Linked DNA regions of Homo sapiens. The protein of the gene in region 6 purifies or fractionates together with the protein of the main gene of each other region. This does not show direct contact. Each region holds a gene or a part of one and is shown on either strand. Other genes may lie near its edges.

What was found.
Region 1: the proteins of BYSL (region 6) and FTSJ3 purify together in Homo sapiens (affinity purification with mass spectrometry; 2 studies listed by BioGRID and IntAct, with this or other methods). This does not show direct contact.
Region 2: the proteins of BYSL (region 6) and DHX36 purify together in Homo sapiens (affinity purification with mass spectrometry; 3 studies listed by BioGRID and IntAct, with this or other methods). This does not show direct contact.
Region 3: the proteins of BYSL (region 6) and DDX18 purify together in Homo sapiens (affinity purification with mass spectrometry; 2 studies listed by BioGRID, with this or other methods). This does not show direct contact.
Region 4: the proteins of BYSL (region 6) and RBM19 purify together in Homo sapiens (affinity purification with mass spectrometry; 3 studies listed by BioGRID and IntAct, with this or other methods). This does not show direct contact.
Region 5: the proteins of BYSL (region 6) and NOP14 purify together in Homo sapiens (affinity purification with mass spectrometry; 4 studies listed by BioGRID and IntAct, with this or other methods). This does not show direct contact.
Region 7: the proteins of BYSL (region 6) and PARN purify together in Homo sapiens (affinity purification with mass spectrometry; 4 studies listed by BioGRID and IntAct, with this or other methods). This does not show direct contact.

What each region holds. Positions count from the first base shown.
Region 1 is NC_000017.11:63,818,933-63,821,798, forward strand, and holds the end of FTSJ3 (pre-rRNA 2'-O-ribose RNA methyltransferase FTSJ3), read right to left. Parts: coding exon 2,791-2,866; intron 2,712-2,790; coding exon 2,422-2,711; intron 2,184-2,421; coding exon 2,098-2,183; intron 2,007-2,097; coding exon 1,907-2,006; intron 1,507-1,906; coding exon 1,323-1,506; intron 1,242-1,322; coding exon 1,147-1,241; intron 1,063-1,146; coding exon 870-1,062; 3' UTR 501-869; downstream 1-500.
Region 2 is NC_000003.12:154,282,988-154,286,487, forward strand, and holds part of DHX36 (ATP-dependent DNA/RNA helicase DHX36), read right to left. Parts: intron 2,001-3,500; coding exon 1,827-2,000; intron 1,683-1,826; coding exon 1,596-1,682; intron 285-1,595; coding exon 201-284; intron 1-200.
Region 3 is NC_000002.12:117,821,191-117,824,690, reverse strand, and holds part of DDX18 (ATP-dependent RNA helicase DDX18), read right to left. Parts: coding exon 3,395-3,500; intron 3,042-3,394; coding exon 2,941-3,041; intron 2,830-2,940; coding exon 2,630-2,829; intron 2,545-2,629; coding exon 2,430-2,544; intron 123-2,429; coding exon 1-122. UniProt on the Homo sapiens protein: ATP-dependent RNA helicase that plays a role in the regulation of R-loop homeostasis in both endogenous R-loop-prone regions and at sites of DNA damage.
Region 4 is NC_000012.12:113,956,326-113,959,825, forward strand, and holds part of RBM19 (probable RNA-binding protein 19), read right to left. Parts: intron 3,080-3,500; coding exon 2,887-3,079; intron 1,726-2,886; coding exon 1,457-1,725; intron 1-1,456. UniProt on the Homo sapiens protein: Plays a role in embryo pre-implantation development.
Region 5 is NC_000004.12:2,956,907-2,960,406, forward strand, and holds part of NOP14 (nucleolar protein 14), read right to left. Parts: intron 835-3,500; coding exon 700-834; intron 1-699. UniProt on the Homo sapiens protein: Involved in nucleolar processing of pre-18S ribosomal RNA. Has a role in the nuclear export of 40S pre-ribosomal subunit to the cytoplasm.
Region 6 is NC_000006.12:41,927,999-41,931,498, reverse strand, and holds part of BYSL (bystin), read right to left. Parts: intron 1,368-3,500; coding exon 1,229-1,367; intron 865-1,228; coding exon 731-864; intron 104-730; coding exon 1-103. UniProt on the Homo sapiens protein: Required for processing of 20S pre-rRNA precursor and biogenesis of 40S ribosomal subunits. May be required for trophinin-dependent regulation of cell adhesion during implantation of human embryos.
Region 7 is NC_000016.10:14,620,261-14,623,760, forward strand, and holds part of PARN (poly(A)-specific ribonuclease PARN), read right to left. Parts: intron 1-3,500. UniProt on the Homo sapiens protein: 3'-exoribonuclease that has a preference for poly(A) tails of mRNAs, thereby efficiently degrading poly(A) tails.

The DNA.
Region 1 (2,866 bases), on a different chromosome or scaffold from region 6:
AGGTTTGCATCCAGCCCTGAGACATGTAGGAAACACCTTTCAGACCCAGGCTCTGAAGATTCCCAGAAGCCACAAGGATTGAAGGGAAAAGGTGATCCTGGTAACTGTTCCAGGATTGCTCCAGGTTTGAGATGGTATTGCTAAATTTAAAATTAAACAAGAAACCCAACAACAGCTTTTAAAGTGTCTTCTATCTCATTGTATTTTTTTTAACTTGCCCCAATGATAGAAAAGTCTTTTGCTGAAATGATTTTGATGATTTTTGTTTATCGTTTATAAAAAGGAAAAGAAATATACAAACTTTGACTTTTGTGACTTTGTGAAGGTTTCTTTAAGATGTGCATTCCTTTCTGCTTGCTCTCTAGTAAATGTTTTACTACCGGGACCTGTGGATCGTTTGTCATTTCTGTCTATGAATTGGTACATATTAAGAATAGTGCCGCACACAGTGTAGGGACAGATAGGGAAGTGCTTATTAAAACTGTCAGAAAAGACAACTCTTCCATTATCCTGGTTTTATTCAGGAATAGGATGGGGGTGGGGAGGGCTTAAGTGGCCCACACGTCCAGGTGTAGACTGACTACATTGAGTATCGCTCCAACACCGAACTTCCCTTTAACGGTTTAAAAAAAGGGTCATGAGTGTCAACACAGTTCAGCAGTGTTTTCATGGGAGACCTTCAGGCAGGCAGGAGGACATCCTCCTCTCTGCTCAGGACCACCACGGGAGTTCTAGGCACTCCACCTCACTGTTCTTCAGACAGCTGTGATGTGAGCAGGGGCTAGGCCGGTAATCAAGGGGGCCAGACTGAGCCATGCCACACCCTTCCTCCTAGTCCCCATGCTCTCCTGGGAGCCTGGCAGCTCTGCTTACTTCCGTTTGTGTTTTTTCTTTTGTTCCTTACGTTGCTGTGCTCTTTGGTCCTTCTTCATCCTTGAGTCCACCACCTTGAAATGACCTCTGACTCCAGCTGGCCGGCGCACTTTGCGGCCCACACCTTTTTTGGCTACAACGTAGGTGACATGGCGTTTCTCCTTGCCAAGCCCAGCCTTCTTGTAGAGACTACAGGGGGGAAGAGAAGAGGTTAGAGGCTTGCTTTCTGCTGCACTTTTAGCCCTGTGTACCTTTGTGGTGTCCTCCCATTACCTTCGCAGCTGTGCCACTTTCTCTCGTTCTGAGATGTCCACTGTGTTCACCACGGCTTCTGCCTTCTTCCTGGTCTGCTCCAGCCTCTTCAGCATCTGCAAAGGAACCTGTCAGGTGACCTCTTCCCCATCCCCCCACCCCCACCCCACCCAATCTCTGGAGGCCCCATCACTTACCCTCCTTTTCTTTCTAGCCTTAGCCTCAGCCACCTTCTTGATGGGACGTGCATTGATTTCCCGCCAGCGTTTCCGGTAATGCTCCACCTCCTTCTTACCAACAGGCAACTGTCGTATCCGGTGCTGCTTTTCCTCTTGCACAAACCACTCCGGAAGCTCCCCCTCATCCTCATTAAATGTGTACCTGAGTGGAAAGGACATCTGTCTAATATCCAACATTCCAGGCTTTCTAAAGAAATTACCAGACTGGGCACGGTGGCTCACGCCTGTAATCCCTGCACTTTGGGAGGCTGAGGTGGGCAGATCACCTGAGGTCAGGAGTTTGACCAGCCTGGCCAACATGGTGAAACCCCATCTCTACTAAAAATACAAAAATTAGCTGGGCGTGGTGGTTGGCACCTGTAATCCCAGCTACTCAGAAGGCTGACTCAAGCGATTCAAGGAGAATCAGGCTGCAGTGAGCCAAGATCGTGCCATTGCACTCCAGCCTGGGCAACAGAGCGAGACTCCATCTCAAAAACAAAAAATTACCCATTTACCCACCAGACCCTGGGTCACTCTTGATGAGTTTATGGCCCCTTTACCGGTTGAAGGAGTTATCTATGAGGTCTCTCTTGGCCTTTTTGGAAGAGGCAATAACAGCACCTAGAGCAAGGCCTTCGGGGTCCAGTATCCGATGTTTCGCTAGAGAGGGAAGGAGAAAGGTCAAAGCTCAATTCCCAATACTGAGACTTCCAGTGGTCTTTTCTCATTCCACTGCATACAGAGCTCTCACCTGGGTCCTCAATAGGCACTATCTCAAACCCGTCATCATCTGACTTAGGCCCACGGCTTCGCTTCTTACCACGGAGGGGTTCCCAGCTGTGAAGAGGGGAGGACTCTGAGTGATTCCACCACTCTGTACTACTCAGACCGCACTCCCACGGAATTTGCAAAAATCCTGCCATGCAGGCTGTACCCCAGACCAGTTAAATCAGGATCGTCAGTACAGTATTTTTAACCCTCCCCATGTGCAGCCAAGATTAAGAACCCCCAATTTAGAGAAATGGTTCAAGCCACCGCTTCCTTTCCATCCCTTCTCTCAGCTGCAACTACTCACCTCTCTTCTTCCTCACTGCTAGTACTGCTATCACTGTCTGAGATGCCATCCTTTTCTTCCCCTTCAAGGCCAGTGGCAGCTTCTGTCCCCGAAGAAGCCTCTGTTCCCTTAGGGGCTTCATCTTGGTACAGGGGAGACATTATCTCAGTCTTCAAACAGGAAGGGGGTGTCTGTGGCAGCTGCTGCTTCTGCTGCTGCTGCCGTCCCTTCCGCCGGTTCTCAAATAACAGCTGGGCCTGACTGATCTCCAGGGCCTCATCGGCATCGTCCTCGATCCCAGCAAAGCTGCCCTGTGATAGGAGAACATCAGCTGCCCTTCTCCCAAGGAAGACTCATCTCCCCGCAGTCTTGCCCCCGGCCTCTCCTTACCTTTGAGAACCACAGGTTGGCTTGTTCTTCCTGCAGTACTGCCTTTTCCTCCAGTGGTACCAGCAGTGGATTCTCC
Region 2 (3,500 bases), on a different chromosome or scaffold from region 6:
TATCCTCTGGAACCATGTTTCTTTTCCTTGTTTTGTTGCAGTTGATTTCAGAAAGATCCCCCATTACTTTGTGTATATATACAAATATACTCAATTTCCATATATTTGACTTTTTTGCTATAGATCTAATTGTACAAAATGGATGTATATATTCTCTAATCTAGCATATATGATAATTACTGCAAAACATTCACCATTACCTGCAGTGTGTTTGAAGACAGAAAATATTCCCAGCAATAGTCCTTTTCGTATCTGAAACCACGTCGCCTAGCCTCTTCCCAGCCCTATGGGGCAAAGAAATGAAGAAATCTATATTTCTCCCGCAAACAAAGATTACTACTGGTTTCCCTCTTTACTTTAGTAAAAGCTTAATATTCTACTAATATTTAATTTTCTTTGTAAAAAATTCAAAGAATTTTATAACTGATAAAACTAAAAACACATACACTCCCCATGATCCTAGTCCTTAAGAGACAACCACCACTGAAGTTCCAGACCTTTATACAATTAAGTATATAGTAATATATTAATTATGTATTTTACACAAAATGGCATCCAAACTGTACATAATACACTAATCAAAAAGAACACACTATTAAACTGACTTAAATGCTATTATATATTTTCAAATTCACAGATTTTCTTTATAGTTTGCTTTTTTTTTTAAGAGGAGGGAAATGGGGAAAAAGGAAAGACAAGCTGAATAAGCTCAAAGACAAAAAAACATGAACTTTCCCATAATATGTCACATGAAACAGAATGTAGAGCCACAGAAAAAAGATACTGCCTCTAAAAACCAAATTACATTTAAATTTTACCAAGATAGGTGATAAATGTTTACCCTCAGATACACGTGGCTTTTGGGAGCAGAAAATGTCTCTTTAATCTGAATTATGTACATGATTATGATCCTCTATTACATGTTAAATCTGAATACAGGGTAGTTTATTAATGAATAGAAAGAGACTGTCATTAGCGTTAATAAGCCAAAGATACAAAGAAATTATTAAATACAAAATTTTAAAATAAACTATTCACTTGTTCATTCTTACCAAAAACTATTATTTCCCCAAAACGGTAAATGTAATGAACTATTACAAAATTAAAAATGAATTATAACTTTTTTCAAATGTTCAGCTAAATTTCAACATTCTCAGTAATTTACTCCTGATACCTATGATAATATAGATTTTGGTTTTTTGGTTTTTTTGAGATTGAGTCTCACTCCATCGCCCAGGCTGAAGTGCAGTGGCATGATTTCAGCTCACTGCAACCACCGCGCCCCGGAGTTCAAGCAATTCTCCTGCCTCAGCCTCCTGAGTAGCTGGGATTACAAATGCCCACCACCACACACAGCTAATTTTTGTATTTGTAGTAGAGACAGGGTTTCGCCATGTTGGCCAGCCTGGTCTCAAACTCCTGACTTCAGGTGATACACCTGCCTCAGCCTCCCAAAGTGCTATGATTACAGGCATGAGCCACCGCGCCCGGCCTTATAACAGAGATTTCAAAAGGTTAAATATGATCCTTATTCTATTATTAGCATTTCATTTGAATAAACTATCATAATCCAGGACAAAATTTTTTTTTTTTACCTCAAACGCATTCACAACTGTTAAGTGATCACTTCTAGTATCCTTTGCCAATTCCTTTCTTCTTGCATCTGCAATCTTTTCTTTTCCCTTAAAAATAGCAGACATAGCCAATTTAAATTGCTCTGATGCTATAATGGAGAATGACATTCTAATAAAACGCTAATGAAAAATATATCTAAGCAACTCCTGTTCACATCTAAAATAACTCGGTTTTATTTCCATTTTTCTTACCAGTGGAATGACAAATGGATCTTTGAAACTGAGACTAGCAGCAATAGTGAGTACTGGGTCTAAGCAGCAGAACAGTGCTCCAAAAAGAATCATTTTTCCAATATGTGGCTCAACGGGTAATCGTGCCAAGTGGACTCCAAGAGGTGTCAATTCTTCTTGTTTATCCAAAGCGTTCTGTAAAGGAAGAGTGTGTGTTTAAAATAGATCCTGTAAAGCATTACATTTAAAACGATTTTAGCTTGCTTTAAAAAGAGTAACAAGCCACTACTCTCTCTTCTAAGTCCAAATGCCCAAATATTGTTCAGCTTTAGTTTTCCCTACCAAAACATAAGTTGTGAGGTCAGCAAAGGTTACAAACTTATTTAAACATAACCAAAATTAACACACAACTTGGCTTTTCTGTGTTGAGAGAAATACCAGAAATGACAAACTTTCTGTTAAATAAAGTCACCTAATAAAGTATAAAAGTTGTAGAAACAAACAACAAAAACAAAAGATACACTATTATACATCTGGAATACATAATGCACACTCTCTAGATTCTAGTAGTTTAGGTGACGCGAGACAGAAAAGCAAAAGAAAAAGGAACTATCTAAAACCACAGAAAATGGGAGTGACTTCTGCTCTGATTCCCTAGGTCATCTGGTCCAACCACCCCACTGTGGACAGCTAGAAAAGTAGCCTGAAGATACAAGGAGTTAACAAAGAATTGTAAATCAAGAGGTTAGGGAATGAGAGACATCTAGGGGAGGTGAGTGCAGAGGTTGGGGCCTCTTTTCCTGGCAGAAAGGAACATAAAACCTTGCTGAAAAAAAGCTACCCTCATCCCAAGCTTCAAATTTTTATCTATAAAGAATTTTGTAAACAGAATTTCCAGTGCACAATTAAAATAACTAGGCATATAGATGCAAACAAGAAATAATAATAAAAGAACCCATAAGCATCCCATCAGACACAGATTTTTACTAAACAGTTTTGGAGAAAATACACTTAATTTTTTTTTTTTTAAAAGACCTCTTTCAAATAAAAGAAATGTAAAACCCTCAACTTGTTTTCTGAACCTAGAATAGCTTGATATCTAAATCTTACAAGGACATCTGAAGAAAACTAAATAAACTTACATATGAAAATCACAAAACAAAATAATGGCAAATTGAATGCTGGCAAGTTAGGTTTACTCTAAAAAGAAAAATTTGTTTAATATTTGAAACATCAGTTTAACTGAATACATGAACCAACTAAAATAGTCATACCATAATCTCATCAGAAGCAGAAGATATTTGATAAAACTGATTATCCATACAAGATAAAAATGTCTTAGTAAACTTAACGTAATAAGAGCTTCCACACACCAAAAAAAAAAAAAAAAAAAAAAAAAACACCAACAAACACTTTACTCTCAATGATTTGCTGATAGCTTCTCCTTTAAGAAGAATAAGACAAGAAGGCACACTATCATATCACTTCTGCTCAACATTGTATTAAGGGTCCCAGAAACTTAAAAAAGAATAAATAAAACTCTAATTATTTAAAGATGTGATAATATATGCAGAAAAAAATCTACATGAAGTTATTTGAATAAGGGGACTTTACAGCATTAATGAATACAATCATTCAAAAAGCAACTTTATTTCTGTATTATCAGACTCGAAAGATGATGAAATATTTAAAAGC
Region 3 (3,500 bases), on a different chromosome or scaffold from region 6:
TGTTGCATTCGCTTTATCATCATCAACGCCAACATACAATGGCTCCTTTTTCAGAGAAATCCTTGCCAGGTCTTCAACTTTTCGAGTTTGGGTGGCAGAAAAGAGCATAGTCTGTCTACGTGCTGAAACAGATACATATAAAAATAACCCCAATCTTTTAGGGAATCTTTACAATTGCCTCACAACTACAAATATTCTAGGTAGAGATATCAGAAATGGGAGATATGATGTTTCTACAGAATCTACAAATATTACAAAAGGTAAAAAGGGTATATCATGAAACACTAGGTCTATAAATTTGAGGACTTAGATGAAATGGACAAACTCCTTTGAAGACAAACAACTGAAGAAAATAGGAAAACTTTAAATAGCCTTATATCTACTAAAGAAATTTTAGTTATAACCTTCATGTAAAGAAAATTCCAGGCCCAAATGGATTCCATTGGTGAATTCTACTGAACATTTAAGAAAAAAACATCAATTATTCACAAACTCTCCAATAAATTAAAAAGAGGGCTTACATGTCAACTCATTCTTCGAAGTCAGTCATTACACTATACAAAAACCTGACATGACATGACAAGAAAACTATGGACCAATACAATTCGTGAGCACATATACAAAATTTGAAATAGAATTTTAGTAAAGTGAATTCAGCAATATATAAAAAGGATAATGGCTCATGTTTATTCTAGAAATGGATCAGGTTTATTCTAGAAATGCAGGTTGGTTCAACATTTGAAAAATCAACCAATACAATTCACTATGTTAACTAAAGAAAAAACATGATTATTTCAGCAGACAGAAAAAAAACATTTGACCATCTATTTCTGATTAAAAATCCTCAGCAAACTAGGAACAGAAGGGATCTTCCTCAATCTGATAAAAGGCATCTATATAAAACCTGCAGCTAACTTCATATGTAGTTAATGGTAAAAGACTGAATGCTTTCCCCTAAGATCAGAACCAAGATAAGGATGTCTGCTCTCACCACTTCTATTCAGCACCATACTGGAGGTTCTGGCCAGGGCAATCAGGCAGGAAAAAAAAATTAAATAAAGAGGTGAAACTGTCTTTATCTGCACATGATTGCCTATATAGAAAATCCAAAAGGCTACAGTCATCTGGAAAGTCATACTGAATAATCATTCGGTACAGGATTAACTGTCTTGCTAGATACAAGATCAATATAAAATTCAACTGTGTGTGCATATATATGTGTGTATATGTGTGTGTGTATATATGTATATATTAAAGCAACGAGCAATTGGAACTTGAAATTTTAATGAAACACTCAGAGATAAATCTGACAAAAGATGTGAATAAACCTGTATCCCGAACCCCCCTAAATATGATAGAGAAAATATCGAATACATGGAGATATACCTTATTATGGGTTACATGACTCAATACTGTCTTCCTCCAATAATCTCTATTCAATAAAATCTCAGTCAAGATCTGAGACTTTTTTGGAGGGAAGGGGGAGAAACTGACAAACCAATTCTAAAATTTATATAGAAAAGCAAAGGACAAGAATACCACAACTTTAAAAGAGAACAAACTTGGGGCTAACATTACCTGATGGTCAAGACTTAATAGGAGGAACTGGAACTTTCATACACTGCTCATAGGAATGTTAAATGGTACAGCCGCTTTGGAAAACATCTGGCAGTTTTTTAAAAAGTTAAACATACACTAAACATATACCAACTAGGACACTCCTAGGTTTACTTAAGAGAAAAGGAGATATATGCCTCTACAAAGAGTTGTAGATGACTGTTCACAGCAACTTTATTTCCAGAAAATGCAACCTAATCTAGCAGCAGAAAACAGATCAATACTCACCTGGGGACAAGGTATACGTGTAAGGAGGGGTGGGAGGGAGAAATTGAAAAGGGGCAGGAGGAAACCTTTGACTGTGATGGACATGTTCATTTTCTTGATTGCAGCGATGATGTCACAGTGGTAAACAAATCAAAGAACATCAAATTGTACATTATAAATGGGTAGATATAATTATACTTTGACAAAGCTTTTAAAAATAAATTATATAATGAAGGAAACCATGGTCTTAGTTATAACCAGTTCATAATGTTGCAAGTACTATAACCAAGGTATGTACAAGTAAGGCAAAAAATCTGCGGCTTCTTGGGGGATGTTAGATGAGGTAAGAATGGGCAAGAGGTGGAGGACAGGACCTATGTGAAGACTGCTTAACGTGCCTTATAACTTCTAAAACAGCAAAACTATTATATCAAGTTATAATACATTTGATGCTTGTATTCCAAATTACCTTTCGGGTTAATTGGCACAACTACCTCACTTGGCTATGGTAAAGTTCTGGCATTAGTACAGTTTTTCTATAGGAACAACTCTTATCTACCTCCAACAGATACTTTGCAAACCAAATGCAGATGCTACCTACTTACTTGGCAAAAGTTTAATAATTTGCTTTAATTCCTCTTCAAACCCCACATCCAAGATACGATCAGCTTCATCAATAACCAGACACTGCAGGTTTTTATACATAAATCCTGGGGTATTCTAACAAAACAAAGGACAAAGAACAACCATTAGTTGTCAGTTTATGTTTCATACAAGACAATGAGACAAGCACTACATCTCTTACCTGCATATGGTCCAGCAGACGGCCTGGTGTGGCCACAATGATGTTGATCCCATTACCAAGTTTCTGTGCTTCAGCAGATCTGTTACTGCCACCCATTATCAAGCCATAGGTATGCACGTGGTGAGTCATCAGCTCCTTAAGAACACCAAAGGTTTGCATGGCTAGTTCTCTAGTAGGTGAGAGAATAAGGACTCCTGTTCCTAAAAATGATATATGGTAGAAGTCTAAATGTGGCTGTCACCACTGAGTCCGTAACAGCTACAATAAACCTCTAGTGAAATAATGGCAGAAACAAGCAGATGAACGCTTACCATTCCTGGGCATGAACCTTAACTTAACAATGAGTTCAACTGCAGGGATGAGAAAAGCCAGGGTTTTACCACTGCCTGTTTTTGCAGCTGCTAGAAGATCCCTAAATATTAAAAAGGGAAAGGAGAAAGACATTTAGCCTACTCATTTACGACGTACTACATACACACACCTTAGGCACTACGGCTAGAACATGAACAAGAAACGTCTACAGTGCTGAAATTGATCACCTGGGTTATATACTGAAATCATAAGTCAGAACTGTGCTACAACAGAAGCAGAACACCTTTCGAACACTTTCCTTCAAACATCAGTAATTAACTTAAAGCCTTTAATGTATGCTGGATACATGACCCAACATATAGTACAAAATCAACAGAATATACTGGTATGTTCTTTATCATCTACTAGTTCTAAAAATAGATGCCAATATCTAAGCTTCAATGTTAATCATACCTGCCTTCCAGAAGTGGTCTGATACTTTTATGCTGAATTTCAGTCATGTTTGTAAAACCCATTTCTTTTATTGCCTTCAGAGTGTTTTCATTGACAAGATTACATA
Region 4 (3,500 bases), on a different chromosome or scaffold from region 6:
ATCCCAGCAATTTGGGAGGCTGAGGTGGGTTGATCACTTGAGGCCAGGAGCTCAAGATCAGCCTGGACAATATGGTGAAACTCCATCTCTACTAAAAATACAAAAATTAGCTGGGTGTGGTGGTGTGTGCCTGTAATCCCAGCTACTCGGGAGGCTGAGGCATGAGAATCACTTGAACCCGGGAGGCAGAGGCTGCAGTGAGCTGAGATCACACCACTGCACTCCAGCCTGGGCGACAGCAAGACTGTCTCAAAAAAAAAAAAAAAAAAAAAAAATACAGGGCTAGGCAGGGAGAGAAGTGATGCTTCACAGAGAAAGGAGGGAACAGGGACCTGGACAACATGTCAAACTGCTCTGTCTCTGATGCAGAGAGGACTCCCAGGTCAGAGACGAGTTGGCCGACCTCTGGGGAAGCGCCCACGTTTATGATCTCGACTTCAGACCCCACAGACCTGGGGCTAAGTCCTGAACCCACCATTTCCCAGCCATGACCCTGGCTGAGGCACCTTCCTTCTCCAGGCCTGTTTCCTCATCTGTAAAATGGAACAAGACCAATACTGCCCTCCAGATAGTGATGAGATGCAACGGCACGGCAGGCATGGTGCCTAGTGTGTAGCGCAGGCTCAGTTGATCCTCCCTATGATTGCTGATGACTGGTCTGCACCCCTCTGCCTGTGTTGTTACTAAATACAAAGGATAAAGGCTCAAAGCCATCACTCAGCTCACTTCTGCCCCATTGGTGGGATATGGGTGTGTTGACCGGGGCTGCTCCAGTTTGCCCGGGATAGTTGTTCACTCTATCTGTAGTCATTAGACCTGCAGTAACTACATCCACAGCCTGGCACCCCACTGGACTAGCATCTCACTTTTAACTTAGTGTTGACAATAATTTAGTTGTCACCCTACTTATAGGCAATTTCTGGAAGGCAGGTGACCTCTCCAGGTTAGCAACAGAAAATAAATGCAGAGGCTGGGTGCAGTGGCTCATGCCTATAATCCCAGCACTTTGGGAGGCTGAGATGAGTGGATCACTTGAGGTCAGGAGTTTGAGACCAGCCTGGCTAACATGACAAAACCCCATTTCGACTAAAAATACAAAAAATTAGCTGGGTGTGACTATAATCCCAGCTACTCAGGAGGCTGAGGCAGAAGAATCACTTGAACCCAGGAGGCGGAGGTTGCAGTGAGCTGAGATTGCACCACCGCACTCCAGCCTGGGTGACAGAGTGAGACTCTGTCTCAAAAAATAAAATAAAATAAAATAAAAATAAAAACAGAAAAGAAACGCAGAAAGAACACACGGCGAGCAAGCGGCAGGGCCAAGATCGGGAAGGCTTTGGACTGCAGAGCTGCGTCTTTCCCCAACATTCCGCTCTCCTAACAGAGGAGCTGTGGGGACCACGGGCAAGCAGGAGAGCGCACCTCCTCCCTCATCACCTGCGGGATACACACGCACCTCGGCTCTGGCCTCCGGTGGTCTCTTTTTCCCAGCTGGCATCCCTTGCTCTTGGCCTGCACCCTTGCTGTCTCTTTCCTGCAGGACTGGGGTGGCGGAGGAATCCTCTTCCTCGGCCTCACTCCCTTCATCACAGTGCACGGCTTCATCTTCACTTTCCTCTTCCTCCGAGGAAGAGGACGACCCAGCCTTCACCATCTTGGATTTCAGGTAATCCATGTCCGACAGCTCCTTCTGCACAGCTGCCTTTGGTTCGAGGCTTGCCTCTTCTGGAAAAACAGGGAAGCTGGGATCAGCGACAGCTATGAGCAAACCAGAGGTCAGAGGTAGCAAATGGTAGATGGTCCTCCTAGTGAGAGGCCTGAGGCACCATGCCCACCGTGTCCATGGCCCCTGTGCCCAGCATCCCCCATAAGTCCTCTGATTAGCAATACCAAAACGGGGCAGGGCTACTGCAGCTTTGATATTCTCTGTGCCACACATTGAGCTCCTGGCTCCCTGCCACCAGCCATGTCTTCCTAGTCCTCTACACGGCAGCCTCTGTGACACTTTACAGAGTAGGTACAGGACGGTCAGTCTCTGCTTAATACCCTCCAGGGGTTTCTGAATGCTCAGGGTGAAATCCAGGCTCCTCATCAGGGCTGGCTGCGTGGGCTTCTTCCACTGTCTCCTCCTGCTCAAGCCATCCCAACCCACATTGAGCCCCTCAAGCCCATGCACTTTCCTTTCCTCTGTGTCTCTGCGATGCTGTTCCCTTGACTGGAACCCCTTTCCTCTCCCCTCCCCTACCGTGTCCCACTAAGTCCCCTGAGTTCCTCGGATGTGAACTTAGTGCAGAAACGTTACCAGGCATAACTGCACTAAATGTACATCTTCTCACCTTTAGACCCAAATAGATGCCCAGTTCTCCACCAAGCACGTACCCTCCTGTGTTGCAACTGTTTTCTTGCCCACCAGGCCTCCCCCACACCACAAACCCCTTCTGAGGACAAAGGCTCACTCCCTCACCTCCTCAGGGAGGCCTTCCCTCATAATTCTCCTGTCGCCTTTCCTGCTTTCTCTCTGTAGCATTCATCATCCTATGATATACCCAACAGTGGACTTATTTGCTTATTGTTTCTCTCCACAACCATAATCACAGCTCCATAGGGGAATAAACCCTTCTGTCTTTTGCTTATCAACATGGTCCCAATGCCTGAAGTATGCCTGGCAGATAATAGGTGCTCAAGAAATATTTGTTGACTGACTGACTGAATACACAACTAGGATCAGTGAAGACAGATGCACCTGCAGAGGGATCATCACCCCCAATGGAGAGCTCAAGGGCTCACCTGACTCCTAGAGTCTGCACAGAGGGGCCCCCAGTGCCGGTTAGCCCAATGGCAAGCACAGGTCCGTGCGCATGGAGCACACAGTCCCCATGCCCTCACCTTCCAGGTCCTCCCCGGCTCCCTCCTCCTCACTCTCCTGCCCAGAATCGGAGTCGAAGTTCAGGTAGTCACTGGCCGGCTTGCTCTTCCCTTTCGAGGGCTCAGCATCCAGGCCATCATTCGCCCAAGTGGCTGCCTGCGCCCGCCTCTGATGAACTGACAGAAACTCCTGGAACTCTGTATCCTCCTTCAGCTGGTGGCACCAGAACCCGGGCGGCAGGGACACGGGAAAAAGAGAGAGGAAGAGGCAGAGAAGGCTCAGGTGGGGCTTGATCTTTCTAACTCTTAAGAGGGTGAGAAGATCCCTCAAGCTAATTTCCCCCATTCTCTGGAGGACCCCGAGGTTCAGCTGGGTCAGTTCTGAGGAAGGCAGAGTTGACTCCTCACTAGACAAAACTAAGAGGACAAGAAGACAAGGCCAGGGGAGACCAGAGGCACAGCTCTGCTTGCCAGGGCCAGCCTCCATCCTCTCCAGCCTCTTCCCTCTCCCAGTGTCCACCCTCTCCAGCCTCTTCCCTTTCCTAGCCTCCACCCTCTCCAGCCTCTACGGTCTCCTAGCCTCCACCCTCTCCCAGCCTCTACCCTCTCCAGTCTCCACCCTCTTCCACCTGCTG
Region 5 (3,500 bases), on a different chromosome or scaffold from region 6:
GAAATATGACAACGAATCCTAAGCAGCCTTAAAGAGTATTTTGGGTCAACTAAGCAATGATTCATGATTCAGACAGAAATGAAACTCATGGAGGGTAATTCTTTTTTTTCCTTCAGACAGAGTCTCGCTCTGTTGCCCAGGCTGGAGTGCGGTAGAGTGATCTGGGCTCACTGCAACCTCTGACTCCCTGGTTCAAGTGATTCTCCTGCCTCAGCCTCCTGAGTAGCTGGGATTATAGGCATGCGCCACCACGCCTGGCTAATTTTTGTATTTTTAGTAGAGACGGGGTTTCATCACGTTGGCCAGGATGGTCTCGATCTCCTGACCTCATGATCCACCCACCTCAGCCTCCCAAAGTGCTGGGATTACAGGCATGAGCCACCGCGCCCGGCCTCATGGAGGGGAATTCTTAAATAAGCCCAGGGGCCAGTTTCCACTCCAGCAATGCTGCTCAGCTGAGAACTCCTGTGCACACTGCTGCCGTGTAGTAGAGTTAAGGCATTTATCCATTCAGCTAACATTTGCAGAAGAGGTTGCTTCTCCTTTGGCCTAGCCAGATAAGGCACAGGATTCGAGGGCTATCCCCTGGACCTTCCGAGTGCCCAGGAACATGCAAAACATGCAGAGTCAGCCTTCTCCTTGGCCTTGACTTCCCTGTGAAATGTACAGCAAAAACCCTCCTCCAGTTTCTTTCCATACCTGCTGTTCCAGAGCAAACCTCTTCATCATCTTCTCCTCGGGGCTCATGTTGCTGTTGTATTCTCCGAAGCGTTTATCTCTGAATACATTGGATTTATCCCTTTCTTTGTACTCTTTTAGTAAAGTCTGTGTACGCTGGAAAACAGGTCAGAAACAATCTCACAAAAAATTCTTGTGATTTCCACTACAGGGGACATCAGAACAGTGCATACTTTAAAGTTCAGGGCTATGCACAGTGATGTCAAAGTTCACACCCAATCTGCTTTCATGCACGATAGGCTTTCTCTACTAATCACAGAATTTTGAGAAGAGCAAAACAACTTTCAAGGATAATGGGGCAATCACTTTCTTTTCTTCTTTAGAGTCTACCGGTGCCAAAAGGAAGGGTAAAAAAGAACACACTAGTCAAGCTCAAGGCATGAATGGCTCCCTCGGCTGTAACAGCTGCCTTAAGGTTTAAAACGTGCACATTTGGAAAAGTGGAAATGGGTTTAGACTCCTTCCGTCATGGAGGAGGGTACTATTTCCCATCAAAGGTACTCCTAAGAAATGTGTAGTTGTGAGTTCATACTAGACACAAGGCAATAAACAAGTTAGCGAGGTCACAGTTTAGGGGCTTCACCTTTATAACACCAAGAGGAGCAATATTTTAAATACGGTTAGCAAGTATCAAATAATTTGGTTATTTTCCCAGCAGCAACAAAAAAAGACCAAGTTTAACAGTATTCAAAGTTGGCTGTCCTGGAGGTTGAATTCCCTAAAGAAAGCTGTGAGAGGACAGAGATGGGTGAGGAACGAGTGGCCTCTGCAACCTGAGATGGCCACATTGCAAACTCTTTCTTGCTGCGGAACTTCTTCTATTTGCTAAGGAACTGCCATTACACTGGTGTTTACACAGCAATTCCGAAAGGAAATGGCATCAAGGCAAAATCTTGATGCCATGGAAGGCCCTTGGAATGATCCAATTCAGTGGTTTTACAAACCCACCACAAATCGGTGCCTCGGCAGACATTTGAAACCTCTCATCTAACCCGACTTAAGTGTTCCTTGCCTTCCTCAGGGATTCCTCTAATTTGTGAAGTCACTTTGAAAGAATGCGTGCGTGTGGCAGGAGGGAGCGTGTGGTGACTTGGTCACTGCCACTCTGGTTCCAAGTTCTGTTTCAGGAGGGGACAGGTCAGATTTTGCTCCAGACATAGGTCACTTCCCCAGGGTCGGAGATGAACTTAAAGGCTAAGAAACCCAGATTTAAGGTCAAAACCAGGAGCTGGAAGAGGAGGAAAAGAGAGTGGAAGGGGTTAAGAAGCAGCTGGGCAAGAGCAGAAGATGCTCCAGCAGGGACAGAAGCACGACCTGGCCCTCCTTTCCATTTAGAGCACATTCCATCTGGAGAGGTCAACCGAAATATTAATCATGTGGACAGGAGAAAAGGATGTGAAAAAACCATTTCTCTTATCTCACTTTGAAATGTGAAAGTGCTATTATTACACTTAAAATGCATGAAAAACCCCTCTGCTACCTGAAGAGTAGGAAACCATCCATTAGTTCAATAAATACTGCCAAGGCAATTTTCGTCATTTTCTTCAAGAATATTTCAAGAACCAATTTGTTTCAACTGACACACGCTGAGTTATTAATCCCTAGTAACTTCTAGTAACTTCCTACCGTGGCAGTGCTAAACAATGTTTGTTAAAAACACCTTTGGGGCCGGGCGCGGTGGCTCACGCCTGTAATTCCAGCACTCTGGGAGGCCAAGGCGGGCGGATCACGAGGTTAGAAGATCAAGACCATCCTGGGTAACATGGTGAAACCCCGTCTCTACTAAAAATACAAAAAAATTAGCCGGGTGTGGTGGCGGGCGCCTGTAGTCCCAGCTACTCAGGAGGCTGAGGCAGGAGAATGGCGTGAACCCGGGAAGTGGAGCTTGCAGTGAGCTGAGATTGTGCCACTGCACTCCAGCCTGGGCGACAGACAAAGACTCTGTCTCAAAAACAAAAAAAAACAAAAAACACAAACAAACCACCTTGGGTACAATTTCCTGAACCAGAGTCTAAAGACAGCGAGTGTCCCCAGATAGACCAGAGGGCTCCATCGCCATTGCTCTGTTCTCTCCGCTTCTGTTACGAGCCATTCCAGAGCGAGATCCTGCTGGATGCTGATAGTGAACCACACACAGTACTGAATCAGGTTAAGCTCTCTGAACCTTCACCATTCTTTATCCGCAGAGCAAAATTTTAAAACAACATCTCACTATTTAAATCACAAGGTCTAGCTGGCAATCAGATGGGAGCACATTACATGTGCTAGCCTGTACTGCTCGATGAACTCTGTACGGACAGAGGCTGCTTGCATGCTACACTGAGACCTTTTTTTTTTTTTTTAAAGATGGAATCTCGCTCTGTCGCCCAGGCTGGAGTGCAGTGGCACAATCTCAGCTCACTACAACCTCCACCTGCCGGGTTCAAGCAATTCTCCTGCCTCAGCCTCCCCAGTAGCTGGGATTACAGGCGCACGCTGCCACGCCCAGCTAATTTTTTTGTATTTTTAGTAGAGATGGGGTTTCACCGTGTTGCCCAGGCTGGTTTCGAACTCCTGAGCTCAGGCAATCTGCCTGCCTCGGCCTCCCAAAGTGCTAGGATCACAGGTGTGAGCCACCAAACCCAGCATACACCGAGAAGACTTCTGAGGTCTGTCCCTGCAGAGGGAGGGAGTGTCACTGGCTTCTAGCAGGAAGGGGGTAGATGGGGCAGGCATCAGCCATCTCTGCCTCTAAAAATATTAGTTCTCATTATCTGGAATAT
Region 6 (3,500 bases):
GTTGAGTCGTTTGTATTCAGCAACGTCATCTCGTACTCGAGGGAGCAGGACAAGGTTGTAGAAGCGCTGGGCCATGCGTTCCTTCAGGTTAGAGGCAAAAATCCTAGTGGGAGTTAAGCGGGGGAAGTTTCCAACTCACACGACAGTCTGGACCCGGCCCATTAAATATCACCATGGATAGTGCATACAAGAGGTTTTAAAGTAAAATATGGGACCTTTCTTTCAGTGGGGGATGTGTGGGAGCTGTGTGCATGCAACACCCATCAGCTTAGAGAGAGAATAGGAGGGGCAATGAGATATACCCAAATGAGGAGCACCGTTTGTCTGTGGGAGAGCCAGAGCTCGTGCAAACTGATGGCTACTCAGCATCAGTTGAGTAGCCCTGAGCATGCCTGGGCAGTCACAGACTTCTGAGGGTCCTGCTACAGGGTTGTATCCCAGTGGCTATAAAAGCCTCTCCCCTAGAAATTCATCACAGAGGGTTGTATCCCAGTAGCTATAAAAGCCTCTCCCCTAGAAATTCATCACGGAGGGTTCCTAACTGGCTAACTGGGTCTTGGCCCCAAAAAATGACACAGGAAAAGCTAGAAAAATGATGCTATAAAGTAGCACAGAGAGGGCCCTGGGGCAAAGCTCAAATGCCCTGGGGCCAGAGGCAAGGAAAGCCTGTCCGTCCCAAACTCAGCCTGCACCTATAAACCCAAGGCCCCCGAACCCCCAGCTACTCTACCTGGTGGCCTGGTACATGGCAGCTGCAGTCCAGGCCTCCGGCTCTGTGACGTAGAGGATTTGCTCCCAGTTGGAGAGTGCAGGGATGATCTTAAATGCCTTGGGCAGTTTTCCACTGCGGTACTTAGATAATACCTAGGGATGAGGGAGGTAAAACAATCATCGTCATCCACATATGGCAAGCTTGCTGTGGGCTAGGAACTTGTCTGGGTGCTTTTAATATATTAACTCATTGCATCCCCACAATAACCTATAAGGAGGTGCCATTATTATGCTCATTTTACAGATGACCAGTGAGAGTTCCAGTAACCGACCCAAGGATGCCAAGTCATTTACAGGCAGAGCAGGAATCTGAACCCACACACTCTGCCTCTTAGGTCTGTTTTCTACTCCCATGACTTCTTTAGTATGTGATGCAGGCAAAAGGCAAAAAAGCCTGTGGCAGGAGCCCACAGCCCCCAAAGGGGTCTTCCACCATGGCTCCCCTCTCAGCTCTTACCTCCCGGACCCCCCTGTACACTTCTAGGACCCGGGGGTCCAGCTGGGGCATAGGGAAGCCCGACACCTCTGACATGACTGTCTCAACCTCTGTCTGCTTCTCAGTCAGCTTCTCCATGATGATGTCAGCCAGGGTGCGCCTAAGAGGGGAAGTGCCAAGAGGAGGGGAGAGAGGGGGCAAGGAGCACTGTGGTCACTGTCCAGGAAGCTCCAGACTCCCCACAGTCCCCTGTGAGCACCGCCATACTGCGATCCTGCTGGGATATGCAGCTTAGAGTTCTCTCTCTGTGCCCATTCATCCACCACAGACAGAATCACTGCAGGGTGCAAAGGAACTGAAAGTCATTCCATTTAGGACAAAGCTAGCAGTTGTACGGAGGTTATTATGAACCTCAACTCTGAAGTCAGTCTGCCCAGGTTCAAATCCTGGCTCACCCACTCCCTGGTATGATCTTGGGCATGTTACTTTACCTCTCTATGCCTCTGTTTCCTCATTTGTAAAATAGGGATAATAACGGTACCCACCTTAAAAGATTAATGGAAGGATTAAATAAGTTAATGTCTGTTCATTACTTGGAATGGTCAGTACACAGTAAGCGTTATCTATGGAAATATTTCTAAGACTGATTATATTCTTTTCAGCCTCCTTAAACAGTATTGTTGGGTGTATCAAACATAATCTTATCTTAATGATTCAGAATTACCATCGCCTTGAGCTGTCATATAATACTAGCATCTTCAGAGGCTGCTGAAGTGTATTTATTTATTTTTTTTGAGAGAGAGTCTACCTCTGTTGCCCAGGTTGGCATGCAGTGGCACCATCATGGCTCACTGCAGCCTCTATCTCTCTGGCTCAAGCGATCTTCCCGCCTCAGTCTCTCGAGTAGCTGGGACCACAGGAACATAGTACAAGGCCCAGCTAGTTTTTTATTCTTCTGTAGAGATGGGGTCTCCCCATGTTGCCCAGGCTGGTCTCACACTCCTGGGCTCCTGCCTTGGCGTCCCAAAGTGCTAAGATTACAGGTCTGGGCCACCATGCCCAGACTGAAATGTATTTAAAGCTGCTTCTCAGTTGGGCGCAGTGGCTCACGCTTGTAATCCCAGTACTTTGGGAGGCTGAGGGAGGTGGATCACGTGAGGTCAGGAGTTTGAGACCAGCCTGGCCAACATGGTGAAACCCTGTCTCTACTAATAAAACAAAAATTAGCCAGGCGTGGTGGTACGTGCCTGTAATCCCAGCTACTCGAGAGGCTGAGGTTGCAGTGAGCTGAGATCATGCCACTGCCCTCCAGCGTGGGTGACAGAGTGAGATCCTGTCACAAAACAAAACAAAAAACAAACTGCTCCTCTTTTCTGAGGTCCTACTCAATGCCAGGCACTGAGTTTGGGACTTTTCAGTCCTAGAGTCAGCGCAACACTTATAGGACACGGAAACTTATGCAGACATGGGAACTGGGCCTCAGGTTAATAACTCACCCAAGGCCTCACAGCTGTCAGGTGGGGGTAAGAGTCAAACTCAGGTTTTTGGAAGTCTTGAGTTAAGGTGCTTTATAGTACCTTATAATGTGCCCCCAAACTAAATGGCCTCTGATTGTTGAATTCATGTGGATCTAGGCTTGCTTTCTGAAGATGCCAGCTATCATTTCTTACGACTGCCAGGAGTTCTGATTACTTCAAGGAGCTTGTCTACTCTATTTACTACAAGCTGGAAAAGCATTCTGCTAAATTGGTCAGCATTATCAGTGAAGTAGGAGTTATGAGGTGCTGAGTGAGAACCTGAGAGGCTCTCTGGGGGGACAAGCCCAAGTACATACTTTATGACATATATTTCAACTGTTAGGCATCAATCTGGGAGAGGGGCTCATTTTCATTTCTTCATTCTGCATTTTCAAATAAGCTGCCACAGAATTTATCAGCCTCCCTGTCCTTTTATAGTATGATTAGCAATGAGATGCATTAGCCCAAAACAGCCTAAAGTATCAGGGACACCATTATGTTAATATCACAGGGTCAGAATGAACTGGTTGAGGACCCTTATCCTAGACTCCACTCCCAAGGGCCAAAATTTATGGGCTCAGGAGTTTGACCACAGGCAGTCTAAATGCCTGCATGTTTTGGAGCTAGCATTTATTATAGATGGGAATAAATTAGTGGTCCTGACTAGGGGCAGTCTTGCCTCCCAGAGGACATTTGGCAATGTCTGATGTCATTTTTGGTTTTCACAACTGGGGGAAGGTTGCTACTGGAGTCTAGAAGTAGAGATCAGAGATATC
Region 7 (3,500 bases), on a different chromosome or scaffold from region 6:
CAGCTACTCGGGAGGCTGAGGCAGGAGAATGGTGTGAACCAGGGAGGCGGAGCTTGCAGTGAGCTGAGTTTGTGCCACTGCACTCCAGCCTGGGCGACAGAGCGAGACTCCATCTCAAAAACAAAAAACAAAAAACACTGTATTAAGTGAACAATACTATAGATGAAACACAAGCACGGCAAAATTATGGAGTTCATACTCAAATGAACTTAAGAAATAAGCATTACTGTAGCTACTCTAATTTTATTCTTGGCCAAGTCAGAACATCAGCAGGCTACACATCTGAATCATTTTCATCTGGTCCCTTTCCTGCACTGTACTTTGACATTATGCCATCAGTCTAGATTGAAGGACATGGTAACAAACAGTTCCATTAAACTTATCACAGTACTGACTTCAGAGATGTGATTGAAGATCAGGTTTTCTACAGTAATCATTTACTTATAATTCAAGGGTAAATGTTCTGAGGTCTCTATTCTGGGGAAAGCTATACTAATCCTGAGTTCTGGATTGTCCTAATCCTATGGACCACGGAATGACTGTGTTTCCCTCTTTTCTTTGCTACTAGGAAGCTCAGGGACAAACAAATTACACTTTCTTTGGCACAAATTCTGTGTTCTATTCATACCATAGTGATTGTATCATTTTTCTTTTCTTTCAAATTTTCATTTACTAATTTTTTAATCTTATGTTAAAAGGTAAATACCGTATATATCTTTAATAACCAAAACAAATCGTTTTGAAATGGTGAGATATAAAAAGACAATCTGAACACAGAAAAACACACAAACAAATAGAAGCACATGCAAATCACTTCCATCGTGTCCAGGCTTTTATACTTTACAACAAGCAATCTTTCCCTACCCCCACTTCTTTTTTAATCCTGTCCTGAACCAAGAACCAAGACTCAATGTATTTTGATTGGTCTGTGGGCTTCTGTCTACCATGGCTGGAGTGTTCTTATAACTCTGCCCACCTAAACATTCCATCTCTGACAAAGGCACTGAAACACAAACTGTGGAAGGCATTTTTGTCCTTCTAGTACTAGACACCAAAACATCCTACTTTCCTTTATCCCACTGAATTCAAAGTCAGAGTCATCTATGCCTTTCCTGAAGCTGCTTATTTTCTAATCAAAACAACACTCTTTGGGTTGTACAATAGTGTCAATGTACTTAATGCCACTGAGCTATACATTTAAATACGGTTAGAATAGTAAAATTTATGTTACATATATTTTACCACAATTTTTAAGAAAACCTCTGAACTTGGCCAGACACGGTGGCTCACGCCTGTAATCCGAGCACTTTGGGAGGCGAGGCAGGCAGATCACGAGGTCAAGAGATCAAGACTATCCTGGCTAATACGGTGAAAACCCTGTCTCTACTAAAAATACAAAAAATTAGCTGGGCATGGTGGCAGCGCCTGTAGTCCCAGCTACTTGGGAGGCTGAGGCAGGAGAATGGCGTGAACACGGGAGGCAGAGCTTGCAGTGAGCCAAGATCGTGCCACTGCACTCCAGCCTGGGCGACAGGGGCTTCGTCTCAAAAAAAAAAAAAAAAACCTTTGAACTAACAAAACCTTTTGGAGTTTACTAGCCACTACCTTTGATTTGTCATAAATGTAACATGTTCAAGATTGAAGAGATGAGGCTGGGAGCAGTGTCTCACGCCTGTAATTCCAGCACTTTGGGAGGCCAAGGCGGGTGGATCACTTGAGGTCAGGAATTCGTGACCAGACTGGCCAACATGGTGAAACTCTGTCCCTACTAAAAATACAAAAATTAGCCAGGCATGGTGGCACGCATCTGTAGACCCAACTACTTGGGAGGCTGAGGCAGAAGAATCACTTGAACTCGGGAGGTGGAGGTTACAGTGAGCCAAGATAGTGCCACTGCACTCCAGCCTGGGTGACAGAGTGAGACTCCGTCTCAAAAAAAATAAAAAGATTCAAGACATGAGAACAGATATTTGGGAGGACAATTTGAGACATCCATCAAAACTTTAAATGCATATATCCTATGTCTCAACAACTCTCCTTCTAGGAAATCTACAATACAAAAAAATTCTTACACATACAAAAAGATATACTGAACACAGATGTTGACTATAGAATTGCTGATAACCACTGGAAAGCCTCCAAATTTCAATTAACTGATCAAACAAATTATACGTATCCATACTACGAAATAAAAGACATTCTGCTGAGTGGCAAGTGCGAGTTGCATAAAATGTGAAATTAGGATTCCATATATATATATTTGAGACGGAGTCTCGCTCTGTCACCCAGGCTGGAGCGCAGTGGCGCGATCTTGGCTCAGTGCAAGCTCTGCCTCTCGGGTTCACACCATTCTCCTGCCTCAGCCTCCCGAGTAGCTGGGACTACAGGCGCCCGCCCCCACGCCTGGCTAATTTTTTTTGTATTTTTAGTAGAGACGGGGTTTCACCGTGTTAGCCAGGATGGTCTTAATCTCCTGACCTCGTGATCCGCCCGACTTGGCCTCCCAAAGTGCTGGGATTACAGGAGTGAGTCACCACACCCGGCCCATTTTTTACAATGTAAGCCTGGCGCAGTGGTACGTGCTTGTAATCCCAGCACTTTGGGAAGCCAAAGTGGGCAGATCGCTTGAGCCCAGGAGTTCAAGACGAGCCAAGGCAACATGGTAAAACCTTGGCTCTACAAAAAATACAAAAATTAGCTGGGCATGGTGGCATGTGCCTGTAGTTCCAGCTACTGAGGAGGCTAAGGCAGGAGGATCACTTGAGCTGGTGAGGTCAAGGCTGCAGTGAGCCATGACAACATCACTGCACTCTAGCCTTGGTGACAGAGACTCTGTCTCCAAAAAAAAAAAAAAGCTAATATGTATGTGTGTCTAGGCATATGTCTATATGTATACATGTACATAAAAGCTAGGAAAAAAGGAGTAAAATGGGAAGGAAGTGGCATGGGAAAAGGATATAAGAAGGGAAACACAGCCAGGCACCATGGCTAATACCTGTAATCCCAGCACTTTGGGAGGCCGAGGTGGGCAGATCACGAGGTCAAGAGATCGAGACCATCCTGGCCAACATGGTGAAACCCCGTCTCTACTAAAAATACAAAAATTAGCTGGGCGTGTTAGCACATGTTTGTAGTCCCAGCCACTCCAGAGGCTCAGGCAGGAGGATCGCTTGAACCCAGGAGGTGGAGGTCGTGGTGAGCCAAGATCGCACCACTGCACTCCAGCCTGGAAACAGAGCAAAACCCCATCTCAAAAACAAAAAAAAAGAAAAGAAAAAAAAAAGAAACACATCTGGCCAGGCGCGATGGCTCACGTCTATAATCCCAGCACACTGGAAGGCCAAGGCGGGTGGATCACCTGAGGTCAGGAGTTTGAGACCAGCCTGACCAATATGGTGAAACGCTGTCCCCATTAAAAATACAAAAATTAGCAGGGCGTGGTGGCAGGTGCCTGTAGTCCCAGATACTCAGGAGGCTGAGACAAGAGAATTGCTTGAACC